Homo sapiens: one gene and its partners. The protein of the gene in region 1 purifies or fractionates together with the protein of each later gene. This does not show direct contact. Each region holds a gene or a part of one and is shown in the gene's direction. Other genes may lie near its edges. The genes, in order: LRFN1, SRSF12, NAV1, TESK2, KIF13B, DCLK1 and KIF1C.

Region 1 (2,476 bases):
TCAGACCTTCCTGGTGAATGACCTGGCGGCGGGCCGTGCCTACGACTTGTGCGTGCTGGCGGTCTACGACGACGGGGCCACAGCGCTGCCGGCAACGCGAGTGGTGGGCTGTGTACAGTTCACCACCGCTGGGGATCCGGCGCCCTGCCGCCCGCTGAGGGCCCATTTCTTGGGCGGCACCATGATCATCGCCATCGGGGGCGTCATCGTCGCCTCGGTCCTCGTCTTCATCGTTCTGCTCATGATCCGCTATAAGGTGTATGGCGACGGGGACAGCCGCCGCGTCAAGGGCTCCAGGTCGCTCCCGCGGGTCAGCCACGTGTGCTCGCAGACCAACGGCGCAGGCACAGGCGCGGCACAGGCCCCGGCCCTGCCGGCCCAGGACCACTACGAGGCGCTGCGCGAGGTGGAGTCCCAGGCTGCCCCCGCCGTCGCCGTCGAGGCCAAGGCCATGGAGGCCGAGACGGCATCCGCGGAGCCGGAGGTGGTCCTTGGACGTTCTCTGGGCGGCTCGGCCACCTCGCTGTGCCTGCTGCCATCCGAGGAAACTTCCGGGGAGGAGTCTCGGGCCGCGGTGGGCCCTCGAAGGAGCCGATCCGGCGCCCTGGAGCCACCAACCTCGGCGCCCCCTACTCTAGCTCTAGTTCCTGGGGGAGCCGCGGCCCGGCCGAGGCCGCAGCAGCGCTATTCGTTCGACGGGGACTACGGGGCACTATTCCAGAGCCACAGTTACCCGCGCCGCGCCCGGCGGACAAAGCGCCACCGGTCCACGCCGCACCTGGACGGGGCTGGAGGGGGCGCGGCCGGGGAGGATGGAGACCTGGGGCTGGGCTCCGCCAGGGCGTGCCTGGCTTTCACCAGCACCGAGTGGATGCTGGAGAGTACCGTGTGAGCGGCGGGCGGGCGCCGGGACGCCTGGGTGCCGCAGACCAAACGCCCAGCCGCACGGACGCTGGGGCGGGACTGGGAGAAAGCGCAGCGCCAAGACATTGGACCAGAGTGGAGACGCGCCCTTGTCCCCGGGAGGGGGCGGGGCAGCCTCGGGCTGCGGCTCGAGGCCACGCCCCCGTGCCCAGGGCGGGGTTCGGGGACCGGCTGCCGGCCTCCCTTCCCCTATGGACTCCTCGACCCCCCTCCTACCCCTCCCCTCGCGCGCTCGCGGACCTCGCTGGAGCCGGTGCCTTACACAGCGAAGCGCGGGGAGGGGCAGGGCCCCCTGACACTGCAGCACTGAGACACGAGCCCCCTCCCCCAGCCCGTCACCCGGGGCCGGGGCGAGGGGCCCATTTCTTGTATCTGGCTGGACTAGATCCTATTCTGTCCCGCGGCGGCCTCCAAAGCCTCCCACCCCACCCCACGCACATTCCTGGTCCGGTCGGGTCTGGCTTGGGGTCCCCCTTTCTCTGTTTCCCTCGTTTGTCTCTATCCCGCCCTCTTGTCGTCTCTCTGTAGTGCCTGTCTTTCCCTATTTGCCTCTCCTTTCTCTCTGTCCTGTCGTCTCTTGTCCCTCGGCCCTCCCTGGTTTTGTCTAGTCTCCCTGTCTCTCCTGATTTCTTCTCTTTACTCATTCTCCCGGGCAGGTCCCACTGGAAGGACCAGACTCTCCCAAATAAATCCCCACACGAACAAAATCCAAAACCAAATCCCCCTCCCTACCGGAGCCGGGACCCTCCGCCGCAGCAGAATTAAACTTTTTTCTGTGTCTGAGGCCCTGCTGACCTGTGTGTGTGTCTGTATGTGTGTCCGCGTGTAGTGTGTGTGTGTGTGTGTGTGTGTGTGTGTGTGTGTGTGTGTTGGGGGAGGGTGACCTAGATTGCAGCATAAGGACTCTAAGTGAGACTGAAGGAAGATGGGAAGATGACTAACTGGGGCCGGAGGAGACTGGCAGACAGGCTTTTATCCTCTGAGAGACTTAGAGGTGGGGAATAATCACAAAAATAAAATGATCATAATAGCTAACGCTTAGTGAATACTTACTTACTATGTGCCAAGCACTTAAGTCATTTAATTCTCACAACACCAGGACATATCGGTATTATTATCCTGTTTTCCAGATGAGGGAATTTTGGCCCAGAAAAGTTAAATAACTGGCCCAAGGTGGTAAAACTGGGATTTAAAAAGGCAGGCAGGCCAACTTCTGAGTCTCTACTATAGGGGTGAAAAGACAGCTTCCCCTTCACTCTCTGAAATTTCACTGGAATGGGCTGACAATAGATTAACAAGAGAAAAGGAATATGGAGGGTATTTAACATGCACTAGGAAAATCACAGGAAAGTGATTACCCAATAACCCAGTGAGGTTTATATACTTATATACCTTTCTTCACAGGAGGGGAGATGGGGAAAGGAAGGCAATTTTGAGGGGTAATAAATGATTTTGGGGAAAATAAATGGGTCCAGGAGATAGAATTTAGCTTGTAAATGTCTCTGGAATTTGAGACTGACAGACAGATAATTTCTTGTGACAAAGTCCGTCC
Region 2 (2,883 bases), on another chromosome or scaffold:
GGGTGCAATGGCACGATCTTGGCTCACTGCAACCTCTGCCTCCCAGGTTCAAGTGATTGATTCTCTTGCCTCAGCCTCCTAAGTAGCTGGGATTATAGGCATGCACCACCATGCCAGGCTAATTTTTGTATTTTTAGTAGAGATGGGGTTTCACCATGTTAGTCAGGCTGGTCTTGAACTCCTGACCTCAGGTGATCCACTCGCCTTGGCCTCCCAAAGTGGGATTACAGGCATGAGCCACTGCACCCAGTCTAGTTCATTATTTCTTCTGCTATATCTAGATTGCTGTTAAGACCATCTAATGACTTTTTAATTTCAGATATCATATATTTTTAGTTTTAAATGTCTATTTGTTTCTTTTTATAGATTGTAGTTTTCCACTGAACGATCTTTTTATCTGTTTTGTCTTTTCCTCTTATTTTCTTAAATATATTACTCATAGTAATTTTTTAAATTCCTGTTTGATGATGCCAATATCCAAATCACTTTGGGAATGATTCTTTGCCTTTTATTTTCCTTAGTTTTTAGTTATTCTTGCCTGTTTTTTTTTTTTTTAACATAACATGTGGACATGGACAAAAAATTATAGAGGCTCTGCATGACATTATCATTCTCCAAAGACAGTTTTCTTCTGGTAGACAGAGTACTGGCAGATCACTTTGATCTTAAGGCTTGGTTTTGGGTGTTGTTAAAGCTGCTTGTTTTGGCTTTGAATTTATTCCTAGGGCATGGCCCTTACCTCTAGATTGTAGCCCTTCTGGGTTGTTACCTAATGTTCCTCATTGACCTTTTGGGAGTTTGAACTCTAATCTCTCTCTCAGCACTGTGTGTCTGATAAAAATTTCAGCGCAGTTCTTGAATTTCTGAATTCCGGTTTTTTGCTGGTCCCTTGGAATCTCTTCCATACACACACAACTTAGAAGATGGCCAGTGATTTAAGGATAATTTGTAGGCAAATTTTAGAGGTACTTTTTGGTCTCTAATTCACTCTTCTCTAGAGTTTTTGCCTCTCGTGTCCCACCCATTTTGGTAGCCCTGAATTAACTTTTCTCTCTTCAGCTTAGTCAAATAGCCATTTTCTGGTTGGGCTCAACTCCTCCATGCTGTCATTTGAAAAATGGTCTTAGTAAAAGAGCCAAGGCTTGTAATCCCTCAGGTTCTTCCTGCTTGTGTTGATTATCCTCCAGTGCCTTCGAACAGTTGTTTTATAAATGTTGTGTAGCTTTTCAATATAGTTGTTTTCGGCTGGGTGTGGTAGCTCACGCCTGTAATCCCAGCACTTTAGGAGGCCGAGGCAGGGGGATAACCTGAGGTCGGGAGATTGAGACCAGCCTGACCAACATGGAGAAATCCCATCTCTACTGAAAATACAAAGTTAGCTGGGCGTGGTGGCGCATGCCTGTAATCCCAGCTACTCTGGAGGCTGAGAGAGAAGAATTGCTCAAACCTGGGAGGCGGAGGTTGCGGTGAGCTGAGATCGTGCCATTGCACTCTAGCCTGGGCAACAAGAGCGAAACTCCGTCTCAAAAAAAAAAAAAACATGTATGTGTGTGTGTGTGTGTATATATATATACACACATATATATATACACACACATATATATATACACACACATATATACACACATATATATGTGTATATATATACACACATATATATATGTATATATATATGGAGAGAGAGAGAGAGAGCTGTTTTCTATGGGAAGATTAGTCTAATACAAGCTGTTCTGTCATGGCAGGACCCAAAAGTCCTACATCTAGATTTTTATTTTTATAAGCATTATTTGAACTGTAAATAATTGATTTTTTTAATCTTTTTTTCTTCAGATTTTTGTACCTCTTAAGAGCTGTATAACTCAGACCAAATATGCAGTGTATTTTTCAGAACTGATCCCTATATGTCTAGCAAAGTAAAAATTTTTGGCCATATATTCTAGTATAACAAATATTACAAACTTGTTACTTATGTTTGAACCAAAAGCATGCATAATAAAATGAGAAATTTTTTTAGCTTATCTAGTAAAAATATAACTAATGTTATGTAAAGTATGTAAGTTCCTGAAAGTGTTATTTCCTGATCTCTTATTTTGTGTGAAATATATGCTCTAACATTATGGATGTTTGCAGGTCTCGACACAGGCGATTTTCTTATAGCCAGTCTAAATCTCGTTCCAAATCATTACCAAGGCGGTCTACCTCAGCAAGGCAGTCAAGAACTCCAAGAAGGAATTTTGGCTCTAGAGGACGGTCAAGGTCCAAGTCCTTACAAAAGAGGTCCAAGTCAATAGGAAAATCACAGTCAAGTTCACCTCAAAAGCAGACTAGCTCAGGAACAAAATCAAGATCACATGGAAGACATTCTGACTCAATAGCAAGATCCCCGTGTAAATCTCCCAAAGGGTATACCAATTCTGAAACTAAAGTACAAACAGCAAAGCATTCTCATTTTCGGTCACATTCCAGATCTCGAAGTTATCGTCATAAAAACAGTTGGTGAACAGCAACAGAAAGAGCACCACGCCGTCTTTAATATAAGTTATTAAACTCTCATTATGTTAAATAAAAATTCTTTAAGGCATACAGAAAATGCGAGTTGATATTAGTTACTTTGGGCATATGGAAGAAATAAAATCTCTAGCTTTGGATTAATAAAAATTTGGTCTCCATTTAAAGGGCCCACACTACAAATTATGATTTGTCTAATGTCACCATTTTATGGACCATTTTTTATTTACATTGTGGCAGAAGGGTACTTTTCAAGGGAAATGAGTAAACTGGAACTAATTTTTAAAATTCTACTTGCATAGTATTAGTACTATTAATAATACCTTTTACACAAATATTTTTGACTTTAAAGCACTTTCATGTAAAAAGTAACTA
Region 3 (3,577 bases), on another chromosome or scaffold:
CTCCGTGGGCACTGATGTCACCGAGTAAGTGCTCTTTGGCTCCCTGCCACCCAGCCTGTTACCAGTGTAAGCTGTGGGCTAGAGTTGACAGGAGGCCATTAGACCTTAGACAAGCAGTACTTATTACTGACCTCTCCCTGGGCATATGAGACCAACAGATGGACCTTTCTTCTCATGCTGATTGAATATCAATGGGCAGGAGAAGCCAAGACCACCAACCATGCCTCTCAATATTCTCTAGTAACTCTAGTGCTTCTTCATGTAGCCTGGCTTGACTCTTGCTATCTTACAGGGGCCCTGCTCACCCAGCCCCCCACACTAGGCTGTTCCATGCAAATGAGGAGGAGGAGCCAGAGAAGAAGGAGGTATCGGAGCTGCGCTCTGAGCTATGGGAGAAGGAAATGAAGCTTACAGACATCCGCTTGGAGGCCCTCAACTCTGCCCACCAACTGGATCAGCTTCGGGAGACCATGCACAACATGCAGGTCAGTGTCTGGGCGGACAGCTGCAGGAAAGGGAAGACCAAGGCTTGCTGTCTGTCCAGTCTGCCACCCTACCCTGTCTGTTCTTGCCACAGTTGGAGGTGGACCTGCTGAAAGCAGAGAATGACCGACTGAAGGTAGCCCCAGGCCCCTCATCAGGCTCCACTCCAGGGCAGGTCCCTGGATCATCTGCATTATCTTCCCCACGCCGCTCCCTAGGCCTGGCACTCACCCATTCCTTCGGCCCCAGTCTTGCAGACACAGGTACCTGTGTGGGAGAAGAATCTATAAGGGTGAAGGGAAGAAAAGGGCTTATTTCACTGTTACACCATTCCACTTGCTTTGGTCAGGGCGGTAACAATGCCGAAGCCAAGCAGATGCCAGTGTCCTAAGACACTGAGTTGTAATGGTCCTTCAACCTTAACTACTTTTGAGTTTGGGACCTCCATTCCTTCTCTGTGGCAAACAGAGTTATTTTGGAAAGGATAATGATGGGAAAGTTTAGGAAAGGCTGCGGGTACTCCTAAAACCAGTTGGTTCTTTTCAATCCCCACAGACCTGTCACCCATGGATGGCATCAGTACTTGTGGTCCAAAGGAGGAAGTGACCCTCCGGGTGGTGGTGAGGATGCCCCCGCAGCACATCATCAAAGGGGTAAGGAACTTCAGGGAGAGCCACAGTGGGAATGAACAAATACTGTTACATTTATCCAAGAAAATCTGGACCCTGGGTACCTCCAAAACCAAAGAACTCAACTCCTAAGGCCTTTAGGACCCCGGTTCATGGAGTCATCTGCAGTGAAGCTCAAGAGCTTTTCCTTCCTTGGCCTTACAGGACTTGAAGCAGCAGGAATTCTTCCTGGGCTGTAGCAAGGTCAGTGGAAAAGTTGACTGGAAGATGCTGGATGAAGCTGTTTTCCAAGTGTTCAAGGTAAAGGGATACCTGTACTCAAAAAGGTTGTTCATCCTCTCGTGGAATATATATACTTTTTTAGAGACAGGGTCTCACTCTTGCCACCCAGGCTGGAGGGCAGTGGCGTGATCACAGCTCACTGCAGCCTTGAACTCTTGGGCTTAAGTAATTCTCCTGTCGCAGCCTCCTGAGTAGCTGGGATTACAAGCATGTGCCACCATGCATGGCTTCTCACAGGATATTAAACCGTCCAGGCACTGGGATCCTGGGGACCTTTGAGGCTTTATGGAGAAATGCTACCTAGGAAAAGCATATGCTCTGCACTTTCTCCATCTATTTCTGTTTCCTCTGATAGACATTCTTTGTTGTGGCTTTTACACCTGTGTTTGTATATTTTCTTCTTCTTCTGCCTGTCTTTTCTGTCAGGACTATATTTCTAAAATGGACCCAGCCTCTACCCTGGGACTAAGCACTGAGTCCATCCATGGCTACAGCATCAGCCACGTGAAACGAGTGTTGGATGCAGAGCCCCCCGAGATGCCTCCTTGCCGTCGAGGTGTCAATAACATATCAGTCTCCCTCAAAGGTCAGTCTTTGTCTCTTGGGGTGAGGTGGTGTGGCATGAAGGCAGGGACAGGATCATCAAATAATCCATCATGCATTCATTCACCAAGAACTCACTGAGAAGGTATAATATGAAGATGCTTAAGTAATGTGAGATATAAAAAGATGAGTAAGACCCAGTCCTAACTTTGGCTCCCAGGGACACTTTTGCTAAGCCTTGGCTTCTTGCTTCACTCCTCACCCCCAGCTCACAGCATGTCCCTAAAAAGAAGATCTAAGTTTTCAAAACTAGGGGTTAAGGGACTCTTATGGAACCATGGGGCAAGTGGCTCTGAGTTTCTTCAGGGGGCTCCTAGATAAAGAAAGAAAAGCCCTTTAGGATCCCTTGCTATCCTCAAGACCCTGGTCAATACTCATGCTTTCTGGGGTGGGGGTTCAGGTCTGAAGGAGAAATGCGTCGACAGCCTGGTGTTCGAGACGCTGATCCCCAAGCCGATGATGCAGCACTACATAAGCCTCCTGCTGAAGCACCGGCGCCTCGTCCTCTCGGGCCCCAGCGGCACGGGCAAGACCTACCTGACCAATCGCTTGGCCGAGTACCTGGTGGAGCGCTCTGGCCGTGAGGTCACAGAGGGCATCGTCAGCACCTTCAACATGCACCAGCAGTCTTGCAAGGTGGCTGCCCCCCGACACCCCTGCCAGCCTTTGTTCATGCCTCAGCCTTCCCTAAGACCCTTCCTCGGCCCCTTCCTGCCTCATTGTTCCCTTTTCCTCACCTCTGCCTTCATCTTTCTTCTCTTCTGTGTTCATTTCCTTCCCTCTCTATCTATCCCCTTTTCCAGTCTTCTCCTTTCCCTCCCCACGATTTCTTTCCAGCCTCTTGCCTTTAACTTGTTTCTCCACACTTTCCCTTGCCTTTATGGAGAAAGGCTTTCCTCTCCACACTTTTCCTTGCTTTGTGCACCTTCCTCCTCAGTTGGTCATTGATGAAACTGCATTCTCCTCATTTCTACCCCACTGTCTGCCAACCCTGTCAATCCCATCCCTTCTCTTTTGTTCTCTTCCTTCTACTTTTCTTTTCAGTATTACTCTCTGACCTTGGGCTATCTGGGAAGAAGCACTCAGAATTAAATGGTACATATTACACCCTCCCCTGCCAAAACCTGATGATGTCTCTTGAGTACCCTAATACAATGGAGTTGGTTCAGATCTTTGCTCTTCCCAGCTCGGGGAGGCATGCCCATTAGTAGTAGTCCATGGTACCAGTGAAAATCCATCTAGGAAATAGCATATGTTCCCCAACTTTGGGGAATTTAGGGGCTGCTGCTTAAGAGGGTTGCTTTAGAGCCTTTGCAACCACTGCTTATCACTCTGTGGTAATCTGCTGTAATCAAATTTGCAAGGAACTAAAGGCCCCAGGGGAATCTAGATCTAGTAAGACTTCTTCAAAATCCTGATTTCCAAGGCCGATCCAGCTGCTTATTCCCAAGTGCTGACCCACAGCCTTCTTTTATTCCAGGATCTGCAACTGTATCTTTCCAACCTAGCCAACCAGATAGACCGGGAAACAGGAATTGGGGATGTGCCCCTGGTGATTCTATTGGATGACCTGAGTGAAG
Region 4 (3,577 bases), on another chromosome or scaffold:
TATGCTGCTATAAGAATATATCATAGACTGGGTAGCTTATAAACAACAAAAATTTATTTCTCACACTTCTGGAGGCTGGGCAATCTAAGATCTAGGCACAGGCAGATTCAGTGTTTGGTGAGGGCCTACTTCATGGTTCATAAATGCCTGTCTTTTTGTTGTGTCCTTACATAGTGGAAGGGACTAAAGAACTATGGGGACACTTGTACACACATTCTCTATCGTGGTAAAATACATATAACATATAATTTACCATCTTTTTTTTGAGTGGGGGTCTTGCTATGTTGCCCAGGCTGGTCTTGAGCTCCTGGCCTCAAGCGATCCTCCCACATCAGCTTCTCAAAGTGCTGGGATTACAGGCGAGAGCCACTGTGCCTGGCCAAGAGACAAGTTCTTACTCTCATATGGAAGTGGCAGTAGGGGGAGGAGTGCTCAATAAATGTTTGTAGAAATAACCTGAATTGATATTCCTGAGTGGAGAACTGAGTGTCCACTTCTCTGTGCCTTTGGTGATTTTAAAAAAGATGTTGGCATATGATTTCTTGCATTTTAGTAATAAAGGTTTATTTACATAATATAGTTGAATTACCAATACACTTTAGAAAGTTATTGAGTGCCTTCTAGGAAAAGGCTGTATATATTTAATGAAACCAAGTATCAAACACAAATGAAATGGAAGAAACTCTGTTATTTTATTAGACCGTGAGGAAGTGAGGCAAGTTTTGGTATAGGTAAAGTTGGTATAGAAAAAGGTAACAGCCACTGAGAGGTATTGAAGTATCTATAACACATTTTATTGACTGTATTATAGTTTTCTAACTTGAAAGGTTAAAATAACAACAATTAAAAATATTAAAACTTCTGTATTAATTAAATGTATTACCAATGCCTTGGGTCATTTTATAGGGCTGACCGAGGGAGTAGTCTAGCTGAAAATGAAAGCAAAGCAGCTGTTATCCCCATCCGGGAAAGCTGAACATGCTAATGCAGTTGCTCTTGTCTCTGCTTCCTGCAGAGGGATTTGTTTAGAGGCCACACCAGCTGAGTCTGCACTGGGAGTTGCTTATGGAGAAGTGAACATTCCAGCTAATGGGCACAGAGACCGTGTAGCAATCTTCTGGCTGGGTGCGGTAGCTCACGCCTGTAATCCTAGCACTTTGGGAGGCTGAGGCGGGTGGATCACCTGAGGTCAGGAGTTCGAGACAAGCCTGGCCAACATGGGAAAACCCTGTCTCTACTAAAAAATACAAAAATTAGCTGGGTGTGGTGACACAGCCTGTAATCCCAGCTACACGGGAAGCTGAGGCTGGAGAATCACTTGAACCTGGGAGGTGGAGGTTGCAGTGAGCCGAGATGGCGCCACTGCACTCCAGCCTGAGGGACAGAGTGAGACTCCGTCTCAAAAAAAAGAAAGAAATCTTCCTTGTTGACAAATCTCAAATTTCCTTTTCTTATGCATGCAGAGGTCTTGAAACATTGAGAAGCGGTTTCTGAGGGCCTACAGGCTTATCAGCCCAACTAATGTATTCACCAAAGGCAGGCAAGAGAAATGGGTTGTAAAAGCAAATTCCATTTGTTTTCCCTCTCTGGTCCTTGGTTTGCGCTTTTTCCAGTTTGCCTGGAGAAGCCAGAATCTATTAGCCAAGTGTGATTCCTCATCTTTTGTCACCTTTTCCTGTGCTCTCCACCCTCTGGCTTTGCATATGGATTTCCAGGGCCTTCAGAGACACTGCTGAACAGAGTAAACAAGTGTTTCCCAGAACCAAGAGTCCTGGTGTCACCTGGCCTATAGAGAGTGCACATACAGTCTTTTCATTATAGTGTCTTCTGCCTGGCACTCAGTTGGGAAACCTGAGTGGCTCCTGAAGACAGGCCCGACATATCACACTGTCATCATGCTAAAGAAGTGAACCACTGCCTACCTTTTGACTTTCAGAGCTAAAGAAATCTGCCTGCATGATTAGATGTCAGCTTCACTGCCCACTTATAACCCTGAAGTTCACAAGCTCAGTTTCTTTTCAGCAAATGGGCACCTCAAATGTGAATCTTGGGCAGATTCAACTAGAATGAAGAGAGCAAGGCGCTGTGCTTATGCCGTCATTATGCCTTATTTTAAGATTTTCAAAGATGGATTATCAAGCAGGATGAAGCAGATCAACAAGTTTCCCTTTTGAGAAGTTGGAAGATTTATTTTTAGTCATTCTTTCTGTCTTGCCAAAACTGGTCCGACGCTTCCAAGGATCTGAAGTGCTGCATGGTGCTGCCCCCAACTGGTTCTTTTTGGTGCTTATATTATTACCACATCAGAAAATATATGACATTTAAATTTTTTTCGAAGCGCTTTCACATATTTTATTTTATTATTATTTTTTTGAGACAGAGTCTCACCCTGTTGCCCAGGCTGGAGTGCAGTGATATGATCTCTGCCCACCGCAACCTCTGCCTCCAAGGTTCAAGTGATTCTCGTGCCTCAGCCTCCCAAGTAGCTGGGATCACAGTCGTCTGCCACCATGCCCTGCTTATTTTTGTATCTTTAGTAGAGATGGGGTTTCACCATGTTGGCCAGACTGGTCTCGAACTCCTAGCCTCAGGGGATCCACCTGCCTTGGCCTCCCAAAGTGCTAGGAATACAGGTGTGAGCCATCTCGCCTGGCCAACTTTTACATATTTTTTTTTCAAGACAGGGTCTCACTCTGTTGCCTAGGCTGGAGTGCAGTGGCTCAATCTCACTTCACTGCAGCCTCCGCCTCCCGGGTTCAAGTGATTCTCCTGCCTCAGCCTCCCGAGTAGCTGGGATTACAGGCACCCACCACCATGCCCGGCTAATTTTTGTATTTTTAGTAGAGATGGGGTTTCACTATGTTGGCCAGGCTAGTCTTGAACTCCTGACCTTAGGTGATCTGCCCGCCTTGGCCTCCCAAAGTGCTGAGATTACAGGCGTGAGCCACGGCGCCTGGCCAACTTTCACATATTTTATTAGATTCTCATAACAACACTGCAAATTAGGTGAATCAGGGATTATCATACCTACTTATAGTTGAGAAAAGTGAAAGATGGATAGCCTTATTAGTTGATTTGTCCAAGTTAAATGGCTATTAGGAGGCTGAATTGGGCTAGAATTCAGATATTTCTCCTCTTATCCCATTAAGTTCCCTAGTCCTTTGTAAATGCAATGGTACCCAAAAATATGTATTAAGATATAAATTTTAGGCTTAGAGGAATTTCCCTCTTTTTCTCCCTTGGGAGGAGGAGGGAGATAATACATCATATAAGGTTTGAGTAAATTCATTTTTGAGCTCCTGTGCTGCATGAGGCTCTCTTACTCAGATGCTGTGGTCTCTAAGTCTCCAGTGCAACGTAGTGGTAAAGAGTATGGACTCTGGAGCCAGACTGCAGAGTCTGCCAGTCTCTGCCACTTAATAACTGGATAACTTTAAGCAAGTTGCTTAATTTCTAAATGCCTTCTCTAAAATGAGTAATAGTATGTAGTCATTTTGTAGTCCATAGCACGATGATTGGATTTTCATGTGCATGTGTGAGGTGTACTACCCTCAAACCTTATTAATGTCTGCACGTT
Region 5 (3,577 bases), on another chromosome or scaffold:
TTGTCAGAAATATTTGTCTAGTCATACATTTATTTTAACATTCCACTAACAAAAGGAAAAAGAAAAAGAAAAAAGTTCACATACTTTCTTCATCCTAACAGCTTTTCATTTCCATGCCAGTTTGTGCTCACACGTGTATGTAATTTTACATAATTTTAATATTACAACCTTTATTTTGCCTTTCTTCATCTGAGATGCAAAGCTAAACAACTAGAGAAAAGGGTAAATTTTTGTCACAAGATCTTCAAGTTCTATTTGCAGATATCGTTTGTTTTCCAGTGTTGTTGTTCAGACTGTACAGCTAAACAGATAATTCTTGTGTGCTTCCATGTGCCGCACAGAACACCCATTCATACATTATTAACCCGTCTAATCATTACAGGAGCTGAAAGTTCTGTAGCCGTAATTGGTGGGATTAGTTAGATCAGCAACATTCTCCTTTCCAGGAATTTGATGTTTTCTAACTTTAGGTGGCTTAAAAAACATTTAATAGGTAAGCAAACATTGATTGAGTGCCTGCCAGGTATCTGGCTTATATTAGATAGGATGAGATCTTAATGCTTTTCCTCAAGGGATTTCCTGTGTGTAAATCTGTATAAGATCAACTACCAAAATAAGTAAATATCTATAAAAGGTGTTTGGAATACCTTTGTTACCTACCTAGCCTAAGGGGGTAGAACCGGGAAACGAAAGAAATGAAGATAGAAACAGTGAAATAGATTATTTCAGGTGTTAGGGAGAATGGACAAGAAATTTATTTCAGGAGATATTTCAAATGAGTTTACTTGGCATTTTCCAATACTTGATGTGGTGAAAGACACAGAAGTATGTAATAATGTCTAATAGAGTCAATGTAGAGTCAGTGCCTTGGTAATCATGATCTAGTATCTCAATGGAGGGACTATTATACAGCGATTAAAATGATGACAGTCAAAACCATTTAACAAGGAAGATCGTTTTCTCTGTTAGTGGAAAAAGAATGTAAAGCTGTACGTGTAACTGATCAAATCTATTATTATTACTATGTAAAAATGTATACAGGAATGGGCAAGAGCTAGAAAGAAACATGAAAAAGTGAAATTGATTGTTCTTGTTAGGGGGATTTTACTTCCTAAAAGTTTTCTTAGGGTTGCCTGTTACCATCATATTCAGTTTCTTAAAGCATGCTTTATGGTTCATGCCTGTGAGGAAATGACTGTCATGGGCTTGAAAAGAAAATGCCTGTGAAAAGATTAGATTAAAAGGTAAACAGCTGTAGCAGGCTGCTAGTTACTAAGTGCCAGGTGAATGACAGGGAAATAAGGGAATCGAGAGGAGTTTAGACTTCACTGAGGAGGGTGAACTTTGGTTGGACTTCCAGGGAGGAAGCTTATGATGTGAGCACGGGAGAGGGGATGGCATGTATTCTTTGAGGAGGAAGTATGGCCTGAGAGTGAGGACACAGAGACTAGAATGAGTAAAGCAGGTTTAGGCAGCAGAGATGAGATCTGCCTGCCAGAATGGAGATTCTGTGAGGATAGCTAGAGAATGATGGGACAGGAAAGGTCAGGTGGATTGCAGGAAGCCCTGAAAGCAGCCAGGCCAGAAGTCCGGACCTAGGGTGGCTGGTCCACGCACTCTGTTTTGCTTCTTGGGACCTTGTATGGGGCTTGGACACAAACACAACGGGGAAAGATTGCTAGATCCCAAAGCAAGATTGGAAGCTTCAGTAGATGACCGATTTCTGGCATAGCTGGGCAGGATTTAAAAGCGCTTGCTGAAAATGAAGCCTTGTGAATGGGAAGCATAAGGAAGTCGGTCAAAATTAAGCAGCTGTGAATCAACAGGCAAAGGAAAAACCCAGCAAGTGCGAGGAAGCTTAGAAGATGCTGGTAGTCAGTGAAGATAGAGGTGACCCTTAGGAAATGAAGGGACAGGAGAAGGTGGCTTTGACCCCTGGGGTCATTGGTGATTCTTCAGTATTCTCAGAGAGATCACTGACAGATGTGGAGCCAAGGAGGACCGTGGATGGAAATTTCTGGCAGTATTTGCTAAAACAGAAGATACTTGTTTTGTCAGCATCTGCTTGACATGCTAATGGTGAATGAGACACACATGTATTACAACATTGTTTTGTTTCTACTGTCAACTCAGTGACTGAAATTTGGATATATGCACATAGGGCCAGAGGCATTTTGAGAAGAAGGTATACTTTTAAATTCTTTTCCCCAAATCTCCTGTTTTTTGTTTGTTGGTTGGTTTCTTTGTTTTTATTTATTTATTTTTTTTGAGACAGGGTCTCCCTCTGTTGCCCAGGCTGGAGTGCAGTGGCATGATCATCACTCACTGCATCCTCAACCTCAACCTCCTGGGCTCTAGCGATATTCCTGCTGCAGCCTGCTGTGGAGTTGGTACATAGGTGTGCACAACCATGTCTGTCTAATTTCAATATTTTTTGTAGAGATAGGGTCTCACTTTGTTGCTCTGGCTGGCCAGACCTCTTTTCAAGAAATATACATTTATAATATAAAATACAATGTTGTTTAATTGGCATTAGCTTTTACCCTCTCACCTCCATAAAACAATAACTGTCCGACTTTTCCACTTCTTAAGTGCTGAAAATGGAAGAAACCACTGACAAAACTATTAATTAAGGAGATGGATTGAAGTGCTGATTGAGTGGAAATGGATGTATTGATCTCTATGCTTGCTCCTCAAGTTCCCCTTGTGTTTGGCAGAGCATGTTCTTTAAAAAAAAAAACAAAAACTCGACCAAGATGAGCAGTGTGCCCTGTGACCTGGGAAGTGCGTGAAACTAACTGGTCCACTCCATGCAAGTCCATGACTTAACTGTATGGGGCTTTCGCTCTGAGGAGATAAAGATATCTTTAGAAAATGGTATCCATTAGTCATTCATTTCAACAGTGTTGACTGAAGAAAAAGAAAATAGCTGCTTTTTGACAACTTTCTATTTGCGAGCAATGGAGTTCAATGCTTTTTAATGCATTATTTTATTCTTCAAACCAGACTTTGAAAAGGAATTGTAGGCCAGGTGTGGTGGCTCACCCCTGTACTCCCAGCACTTTGGGAGGCCGAGGTGGGTGGATCACTTGAGGCCAGGAGTTTGAGACCAGACTGGCCAACATGGTGAAACCCTGTCTCTACTAAAAATACAGAAACTAGCTGGGTGTGGTGGTGAGTGCCTGTAATCCCAGCTACTCAGGAGGCTGAGGTGGGATAATCGCTTCAACCTGGAAGGCGGAGGTTGCAGTGAGCTGAAATCGCACCACTGCACTCTAGCCTGGGCGACAGAGCGAGACTGTCTCAAAACAAACAAACAAACAAACAAAAAAAGTAGTAATTGTAGCATTTCTATGTAGCAGAACCTCAGAGAGGTTAATTAACATTCCCAGAATTACAAAACCCACCTGTGCTTTTACTACAATGTTGGACATGATTATCTTTAAGAGGATCTTGCTATCCTGAGATGACACCATTTTCAAAGATGTGCAGGATAAACTGGAAGCATAAGTCTTGATCTTCCATCAAAGGAGCTCCCAGTCTTGTTGATAATAAGATGCACATGTGAGTTCATTGG
Region 6 (3,577 bases), on another chromosome or scaffold:
TGGGATTAAATGTATACCAAGGTGCAAAAAAAGCTAGCAGATCCTTTTTGGAGGGTTGATTTTTCTGAAATTGAGATCTCAAGGCCCTGATGATGAAGAAGTAGATGGCACAAAAGAATCTGGGAAAGGGAGGTTGGATGGAGTGTTGGAAGAGCTTGATTTCACCTTGAGTTCATTTTTACTCCAGAACTATTTGCTCAGGCCGTGTAACTCAACTGGGTCCAGGAGGGATGCCATATAATCCCTCCCTCTCTTGTGCAGGTAGCAGGAAGCACCCGTTGCAGCCCCGTTGGAGTTGGGGGCTGCTCTCCCCTGACCGCACACTGACAGAGCCCTCTTGTCCTGCTTTGTAACCAGTGTATGTATGTGATTCAAGGCTGGGGACTTCTCCCTTTTTGCTTCCCTTCATCCCTTGGCAGAAATGCCAGCCTGATCACAGTGTGACTGGCCTTGAGAGCGTGCAGAGGAGCCTGTGTTTATTTTGTGGGAATTCACATCCCTTTTCGGTGACTTGACATGCTGCCAACATGCCTGTGGACTTGGCCTTTTTCCTTCTATTCAGAGGGTGGAACTTCCAGTAAATTAAAGGAGAAGAATTAACATGAAATTTTACTGTTTCAGCTTTAATTTCTGTGCCCTGTCCTTTGCATGACCTTTGGAAATCCAAGGTTAAATGAAACATTTGGTGGTATAGTCTAGGGGATCTGGATAAAAGTTATACGCAAAGTCAGGTGCATGACCAGTCAACAAGCCGTCCCTCTGAGGGCCGGTAGTACTGTAGGGAAAAATATGGCAAGATCTCAAAGCACATCCTAAGACAGCCATGGGTTGACACCTCACTCTGTTCCAGAGTCACTTGTGTAGCATCTATGGGGGTTGGGGTACTTCAATCAGTTTCCCACCCAGAAATGATCTTTACTTAGAAGTGGCCGAAGATACTCCAATGACTCCCATCCACCAAGGAGAGGGTCTGGGAGGTGGTAGATGACAGTACTCCCTTCACATCTAGGGACCAGCAAAATTATGGCATGCTTGTCACCATCTTCTTTGTCTTTTACTGCAAAATAATGCTTTCTCTGAGGGACTGATGTCTTGACTGAAGGTAATAATGATAGCTCTCAGTTATTGAGCATGTGCCAGGCACTGGCCAAATCCCTGCATATATGAATACATTTAATTCTCACAATGATCCTAGGAGGTGGGAACTGTTATCCTTATATTAAGGTGAGAAAAGGAAGGTACAGTGTGGTTAAATGATCTGCTCAAACTCACAAAGAAAGAAATGGTAGAGTTAGGATTTGAACCCAGGAAGGCTAGTGCCAAAGCTTGAGCTCATAACTACCTCTAAGATGCTGTGTGCTATGAATTCAACTACTATATTGAGTTTTTCCCCTCAATCAATGTGAAGTAACTGCCGACTGAATATTCTGATGTTTAAAAATGACTTTTTTGGGAAAAAAAAATTATCTGATTGAATGAATGGTAACTTTGGTACAGTGTGTGAGTTCACCATGTTGGCTGCATTTATTTTTTGAATTTTCATTTAAACAGATTTTTTTTCTAATTCATAACACTGACAATTAGCATGCAGCTGCACTTAGTGTTTAAATAGCTGGAAATTCATTTAGATTCGCCTCTTTGTCAATTACATTTTTTGCTTAGTCTGTTAAAATGCAAACCGTTGGTTCATATTCATCATTAGGCTCATATCTCTGACTTTACATACTAATTTTATGTAAACGTCAGTGCATGTTATTAGCTTTTCATTTCCCCTTCCAATATGATGATGTTTGAGTTTTAAATTAAATCCTTTTAGTGGGTGCAGTGGCAAGTGTATTGGACTTATAGTTATTTTCTTGCTCTTTCTCACTTGCTCTCAGACTAAAAATTCTGAATTACAATATTTGTGAATTTCTTTATCTATGACAGTCTTGTGGTCACTGTCACTGTTTTGTTTTTATCTATGGATTATTATGCCTAAGTGTGGTTTAAGCATGTTGGTAGAGCTAGCTGTATGTATTTAGCTGAGCCAAAATCATATAGTCAGTGTGAATGTGTGTGTCTATGATTGTATGTGTGTCACCTATGCACATATGTATGTATATACACACATATTCACACACATACACTTAAGAGCATTCCAAAGGTGACACTCTTGTTTGCTTTCAAAATGGCCTTAATATGTTTTTTTAAAAAAATCATGATGCTTAATAAGGAAAGTTGAATTGCAGGCCTATTTCCGCAAGTGATTCATCTTGAGACTTGGCCTCATTTCCCCCAATTTTGCACCATCTATATTCTACTGTAGGTAGGTAAATGTTGTGATGATAAATAAAGGTGTCACATTTAAAGCCTTTGAACTCTTAGGAGAAAGATGTAATGTAAACCTGGAGCATTGATGGATTGACTGATTTGTCCTTCTTTTAACATCTTATGAAAATGTACATGTGAGAGGGCCAGAACATTTTCTTTAAACATTAAGATAAAAACTCTGTAGATATGTAATCTTCTGGATACAAGTAAGTGAATTTGTTCATCAGATCTGCGCTATTAGAGATGAGTCCCTCTTCTTCTTTGGTTCTCATGTATGCCTTGGCTTTTCACTAACCCTGTATGGACGTTGCCTGACTCTGGAGCTGCAGTTTGCATAAGGGCTTTTTCCAAGTTTCTATCATAATCCCCCTCTCAGGATTAAACCCATGCTTCACCCCACAGTTAGGGAATCTCTTTCCTACCACAGCCTCTGGGTTACCCATCTTTTCCTATTCCCTAATAGAGCATCCTCTACTTTATTTCCCTATTTCACTGGCTTTCTCTATGCCTCTCCTTGCTATAATGAATTTTTTAAAATTAATTTTTGAATAGATATAAAATTTGCTCTTCCTAAAATTCCTCAGAGGGGACCACTTTACTAGTTTCTTTTTCTTTTCTTTTTTCTTTCTTTAAAAACAAAAGCAAAAACAAAAAACAGGGTTTTGCCATGTTTCCCAGGCTGGTCTCAAACTCCTGGGCTCAAGCCATCCACCCACCTCAGCCTCCCAAAATGCTGGGATTTCAGGCGTGAGGCACTGTGCCCAGCCTACTAGTTTCTTGAGGGTCCTCTCAGAGATACCAGTGCATGTGAAGGACACATATACAGCAATGCCCCCTTATCCTGGAAGGAAATACGTTCTATGACACCCAGTGGTTGCCTGAAACTGCAAATAGTACTGAACCCTGTGTATACTGTGCTTTTTTTCCTGTGAATACATACCTATGATAAAGGTATGTATATGATGCAAGGTATATGATAAAGTTTAATTTATAAATTAGGCATGGCAAGAAATTAACAACAATAACAAATACAATGGAACAATTATAACAATATACTATAATAAAAGTTATGTGAATGTGGCGTCTCTCTCAAAACATCCTTTTGTACTGTACTTGCCCTTCTTGTGATAGAGATGGAAGAAGCAAGATGGCGTGAGAGTTCATCACACTACTCAGAACTGCATGCAGTTTAAAACTCCTGAATTGTCTCTTTCTGGATTTTTTCATGTAATATTTTTGGACCTCAGTTGACTGCAGGTAACTG
Region 7 (3,553 bases), on another chromosome or scaffold:
TGCCCAAGGGTGCGCTGTTGGGGTGGAGCAGGACTTGAACCCAGGCTCCCTGATGGGCGTGTTTCCAGTGTACTTAGGACACACTGGGCCAAGACACATGGGCTCTGGATGTCCTTAGCCCTCTCTTCCTCTTTCTTTCTCTGGCCCCAGTATGCAGACTCGGACAGCGGGGATGACTCTGACAAGCGCTCTTGTGAAGAGAGCTGGAGGCTCATCTCCTCCTTGCGGGAGCAGCTGCCGCCCACCACGGTCCAGACCATTGTCAAACGCTGTGGTCTGCCCAGCAGTGGCAAGCGCAGGGCCCCTCGCAGGGTTTATCAGATCCCCCAGCGACGCAGGCTGCAGGGCAAAGACCCCCGCTGGGCCACCATGGCTGACCTGAAGATGCAGGCGGTGAAGGAGATCTGCTACGAGGTGGCCCTGGCTGACTTCCGCCACGGGCGGGCTGAGATTGAGGCCCTGGCCGCCCTCAAGATGCGGGAGCTGTGTCGCACCTATGGCAAGCCAGACGGCCCCGGAGACGCCTGGAGGGCTGTGGCCCGGGATGTCTGGGACACTGTAGGCGAGGAGGAAGGAGGTGGAGCTGGCAGTGGTGGTGGCAGTGAGGAGGGAGCCCGAGGGGCGGAGGTGGAGGACCTCCGGGCCCACATCGACAAGCTGACGGGGATTCTGCAGGAGGTGAAGCTGCAGAACAGCAGCAAGGACCGGGAGCTGCAGGCCCTGCGGGACCGCATGCTCCGCATGGAGAGGGTCATCCCCCTGGCCCAGGTAGGACTGGCCTTCTGCCTCCCTTCTCTCCTCCCTCGGCTCTTCACTTTAGGAGTCTGAACCTTCCATCTCAGAGCCTAACCTTCCCCAAGTCTGGAAAAAATTGCATTGAAGTATAGTACGTTTTTTTCAATATTGTTTACGAACCACATGCCTCGCTGTCACCAGGCTGCTAATTAAAATAGATTCCCGGGTTCCACCCCAGACCTACTGAATCCACATCTTTGGGGACAAATCTGCATTTATAATAAGCTCTGGGTGTTTCTGAAATACAGTGAAGTCTAAGACCCACTGATATAAAGTTTGCAGTTTTGTTTTGTTTCTGAGGTGAAGTCTTGCTCTGTTGCCAGTCTGGAGTGCAGTGGCACAATCTCGGCTCACTGCAACTTCCGCCTCCCAGGTTCAAGCCATTCTCCTGCCTCAGCCTCCTGAGTAGCTGGGACTACAGGCGCGCACCACCACACCCGGCTAATTTTTTTTTTTTGTATTTTAGTAGAGACGGGGTTTCACCATGTTGGCCAGGATGGTCTTGATCTCTTGACCTTGTGATCCGCCCACCTCAGCTTCCCAAAGTGCTGCGATTACAGGCGTGAGCCACTGCGCCCGGCCCTAAACCACTATTTTTCGAGCTTCCTTATCTCTAGGCTTTTCTCTGGACCCTTTGACATCCAGCCACTCCAGGTCCCTCTTGAATCCACATGTCCTGAGGATTCAGCTCTCCTCACATCCCTTCTCCTTTTCTCACTCCTCCCTCCCAGGATCATGAGGATGAGAATGAAGAAGGTGGTGAGGTCCCCTGGGCCCCGCCTGAAGGATCAGAGGCAGCAGAGGAGGCAGCCCCCAGTGACCGCATGCCGTCAGCCCGGCCCCCCTCGCCACCACTGTCAAGCTGGGAGCGGGTGTCACGGCTCATGGAGGAGGACCCTGCCTTCCGTCGTGGTCGTCTTCGCTGGCTCAAGCAGGAGCAGCTACGGCTGCAGGGACTGCAGGGCTCTGGGGGCCGGGGCGGGGGGCTGCGCAGGCCCCCAGCCCGCTTTGTGCCCCCTCACGACTGCAAGCTACGCTTCCCCTTCAAGAGCAACCCCCAGCACCGGGAGTCTTGGCCAGGGATGGGGAGCGGGGAGGCTCCAACTCCGCTCCAACCCCCTGAGGAGGTCACTCCCCATCCAGCCACCCCTGCCCGCCGGCCTCCGAGTCCCCGAAGGTCCCACCATCCCCGCAGGAACTCCCTGGATGGAGGGGGCCGATCCCGGGGAGCGGGTTCTGCACAGCCTGAACCCCAGCACTTCCAGCCCAAAAAGCACAACTCTTATCCCCAGCCACCCCAACCCTACCCAGCCCAGCGGCCCCCAGGGCCCCGCTACCCCCCATACACTACTCCCCCACGAATGAGACGGCAGCGTTCTGCCCCTGACCTCAAGGAGAGTGGGGCAGCTGTGTGAGTCCCACATCCTGGGCAGAGGGCCTGGTGGGGCCCCTTGCTAGGAGAAGGGAAGACGCCCGAGACGCTGCTTCCCCAGAAGTGCTGGGGCAGGGAGGCCCAGGAGATGAGAGAGAAGGTCCGAGTAGGTGATAGAAGACAAGGGGGAGACCGAGCCGGAGGCTGAGGAAAGGAAGAGGGCACGGAGTTGCCAGGAGCAAACCAAAGTGAAGAGAGAGATAGGAAGCTGCCTCGGGGCCACCCCTTGCAAAGGGGGTGTGTCCCACAAACGCTGCTATGGGTGGGGTGGGGGGCTGGGGTGCTGCGTAGCCAGTGTTTGACTTTCTTTTCAAGTGGGGGAAAGTGGGAGAGGACTGAGAGTGAGGCAAGTTCTCCCCAGCCCCTGTCCGTCTGTCTGTCTGTCTGTGGTGGTTTCTGTTTCTTGGGAGGCATGGTAGGATCATAAGTCATTCCCCTCCCCTTCCAGGCCTCCTGCTATATTTGGGGGACCTGACTGGTTTGGCTGGAGTCCCATGAGGATGTGGGCCCTTTAATAAAGGATAGCAAACAGGGAGCTTGTGGCCTGTTTGTTTTGGGTTTTCATGGAGGTGTAGGTTATATAAGGCAATGGCACAGGTCTTAAGCATACTTATCAGTGAAGTATTGTATGTGTGCTCTGTGCAGGCACCACCCAGATCTGGATATAAGAATGTTTCCATCTTGTCTTCCTGAACTTCACCCTCCTGTCTCTTCCTTCAGGGTGCGCAGCCCGATCTTTTCCCCGCTTTTTTTTTTTGGGAGACAGGGTCTTGCTTTGTTGCCCAGGCTGGAGGTACAGTCTTGGCTCACTGCAGCCTCCGCCTCCTGAGTAGCTGGGATTACAGGCATGTGCCACCACGCCCGGCTCATTACTGTTTTTTTTGTAGTGACGAGGTTTCACCATATTGGCCAGGCTGGTCTCGAACTCCTGATGACCTCAAGTGATCCGCCCACCTTGGCCTCCCAAAGTGGTGGGATTACAGGTGTGAGCCACCGCGCCCGGCCTCCCCTGCTTTCATGTTTGCTTACCCAGTGTCTCAGTCTGTGCCAGCAGCACCACTGTCTGTTATGGACAAAGCACAGAAGCGGGGATGCGAGGGGAGGTAGAGGGACCGCCAGCCTGTCAATGCTTAACTGGCTGTTGCTGACAGATACAGAAGGATTTGTGGGGTACAGAGGAGTTCTGCTTTAAGTCACCTAACTTACTTGAAAGGTCTCCCAAGCAGCCAGTTTCTCTTGATAGTGAATGGGTTGGGCAAGCATACTGCGCTTACCTGATTGTTTTCATCCTGGTTGTGTTACCTGCCTTCTGGCAGGCTACATCAT

The links.
Region 2: the proteins of LRFN1 (region 1) and SRSF12 purify together in Homo sapiens (affinity purification with mass spectrometry, with the first as the bait; one large-scale study listed by BioGRID). This does not show direct contact.
Region 3: the proteins of LRFN1 (region 1) and NAV1 purify together in Homo sapiens (affinity purification with mass spectrometry, with the first as the bait; one large-scale study listed by BioGRID). This does not show direct contact.
Region 4: the proteins of LRFN1 (region 1) and TESK2 purify together in Homo sapiens (affinity purification with mass spectrometry, with the first as the bait; one large-scale study listed by BioGRID). This does not show direct contact.
Region 5: the proteins of LRFN1 (region 1) and KIF13B purify together in Homo sapiens (affinity purification with mass spectrometry, with the first as the bait; one large-scale study listed by BioGRID). This does not show direct contact.
Region 6: the proteins of LRFN1 (region 1) and DCLK1 purify together in Homo sapiens (affinity purification with mass spectrometry, with the first as the bait; one large-scale study listed by BioGRID). This does not show direct contact.
Region 7: the proteins of LRFN1 (region 1) and KIF1C purify together in Homo sapiens (affinity purification with mass spectrometry, with the first as the bait; one large-scale study listed by BioGRID). This does not show direct contact.

What each region holds. Positions count from the first base shown.
Region 1 is NC_000019.10:39,306,049-39,308,524, reverse strand, and holds the end of LRFN1 (leucine-rich repeat and fibronectin type III domain-containing protein 1 precursor), read left to right. Parts: coding exon 1-892; 3' UTR 893-1,959; downstream 1,960-2,476. UniProt on the Homo sapiens protein: Promotes neurite outgrowth in hippocampal neurons. Involved in the regulation and maintenance of excitatory synapses. Induces the clustering of excitatory postsynaptic proteins, including DLG4, DLGAP1, GRIA1 and GRIN1.
Region 2 is NC_000006.12:89,098,195-89,101,077, reverse strand, and holds part of SRSF12 (serine/arginine-rich splicing factor 12), read left to right. Parts: intron 1-2,130; coding exon 2,131-2,500; 3' UTR 2,501-2,883. UniProt on the Homo sapiens protein: Splicing factor that seems to antagonize SR proteins in pre-mRNA splicing regulation.
Region 3 is NC_000001.11:201,808,126-201,811,702, forward strand, and holds part of NAV1 (neuron navigator 1), read left to right. Parts: coding exon 1-24; intron 25-292; coding exon 293-485; exon of another isoform or gene 486-577; coding exon 578-746; intron 747-1,038; coding exon 1,039-1,136; intron 1,137-1,316; coding exon 1,317-1,412; intron 1,413-1,820; coding exon 1,821-1,980; intron 1,981-2,397; coding exon 2,398-2,633; intron 2,634-3,477; coding exon 3,478-3,577. UniProt on the Homo sapiens protein: May be involved in neuronal migration.
Region 4 is NC_000001.11:45,358,660-45,362,236, reverse strand, and holds part of TESK2 (dual specificity testis-specific protein kinase 2), read left to right. Parts: intron 1-3,488; exon of another isoform or gene 3,489-3,577. UniProt on the Homo sapiens protein: Dual specificity protein kinase activity catalyzing autophosphorylation and phosphorylation of exogenous substrates on both serine/threonine and tyrosine residues. Phosphorylates cofilin at 'Ser-3'. May play an important role in spermatogenesis.
Region 5 is NC_000008.11:29,256,503-29,260,079, reverse strand, and holds part of KIF13B (kinesin-like protein KIF13B), read left to right. Parts: intron 1-3,577. UniProt on the Homo sapiens protein: Involved in reorganization of the cortical cytoskeleton. Regulates axon formation by promoting the formation of extra axons. May be functionally important for the intracellular trafficking of MAGUKs and associated protein complexes.
Region 6 is NC_000013.11:36,121,327-36,124,903, reverse strand, and holds part of DCLK1 (serine/threonine-protein kinase DCLK1), read left to right. Parts: intron 1-3,577.
Region 7 is NC_000017.11:5,021,942-5,025,494, forward strand, and holds part of KIF1C (kinesin-like protein KIF1C), read left to right. Parts: intron 1-150; coding exon 151-768; intron 769-1,526; coding exon 1,527-2,210; 3' UTR 2,211-3,553. UniProt on the Homo sapiens protein: Motor required for the retrograde transport of Golgi vesicles to the endoplasmic reticulum. Has a microtubule plus end-directed motility.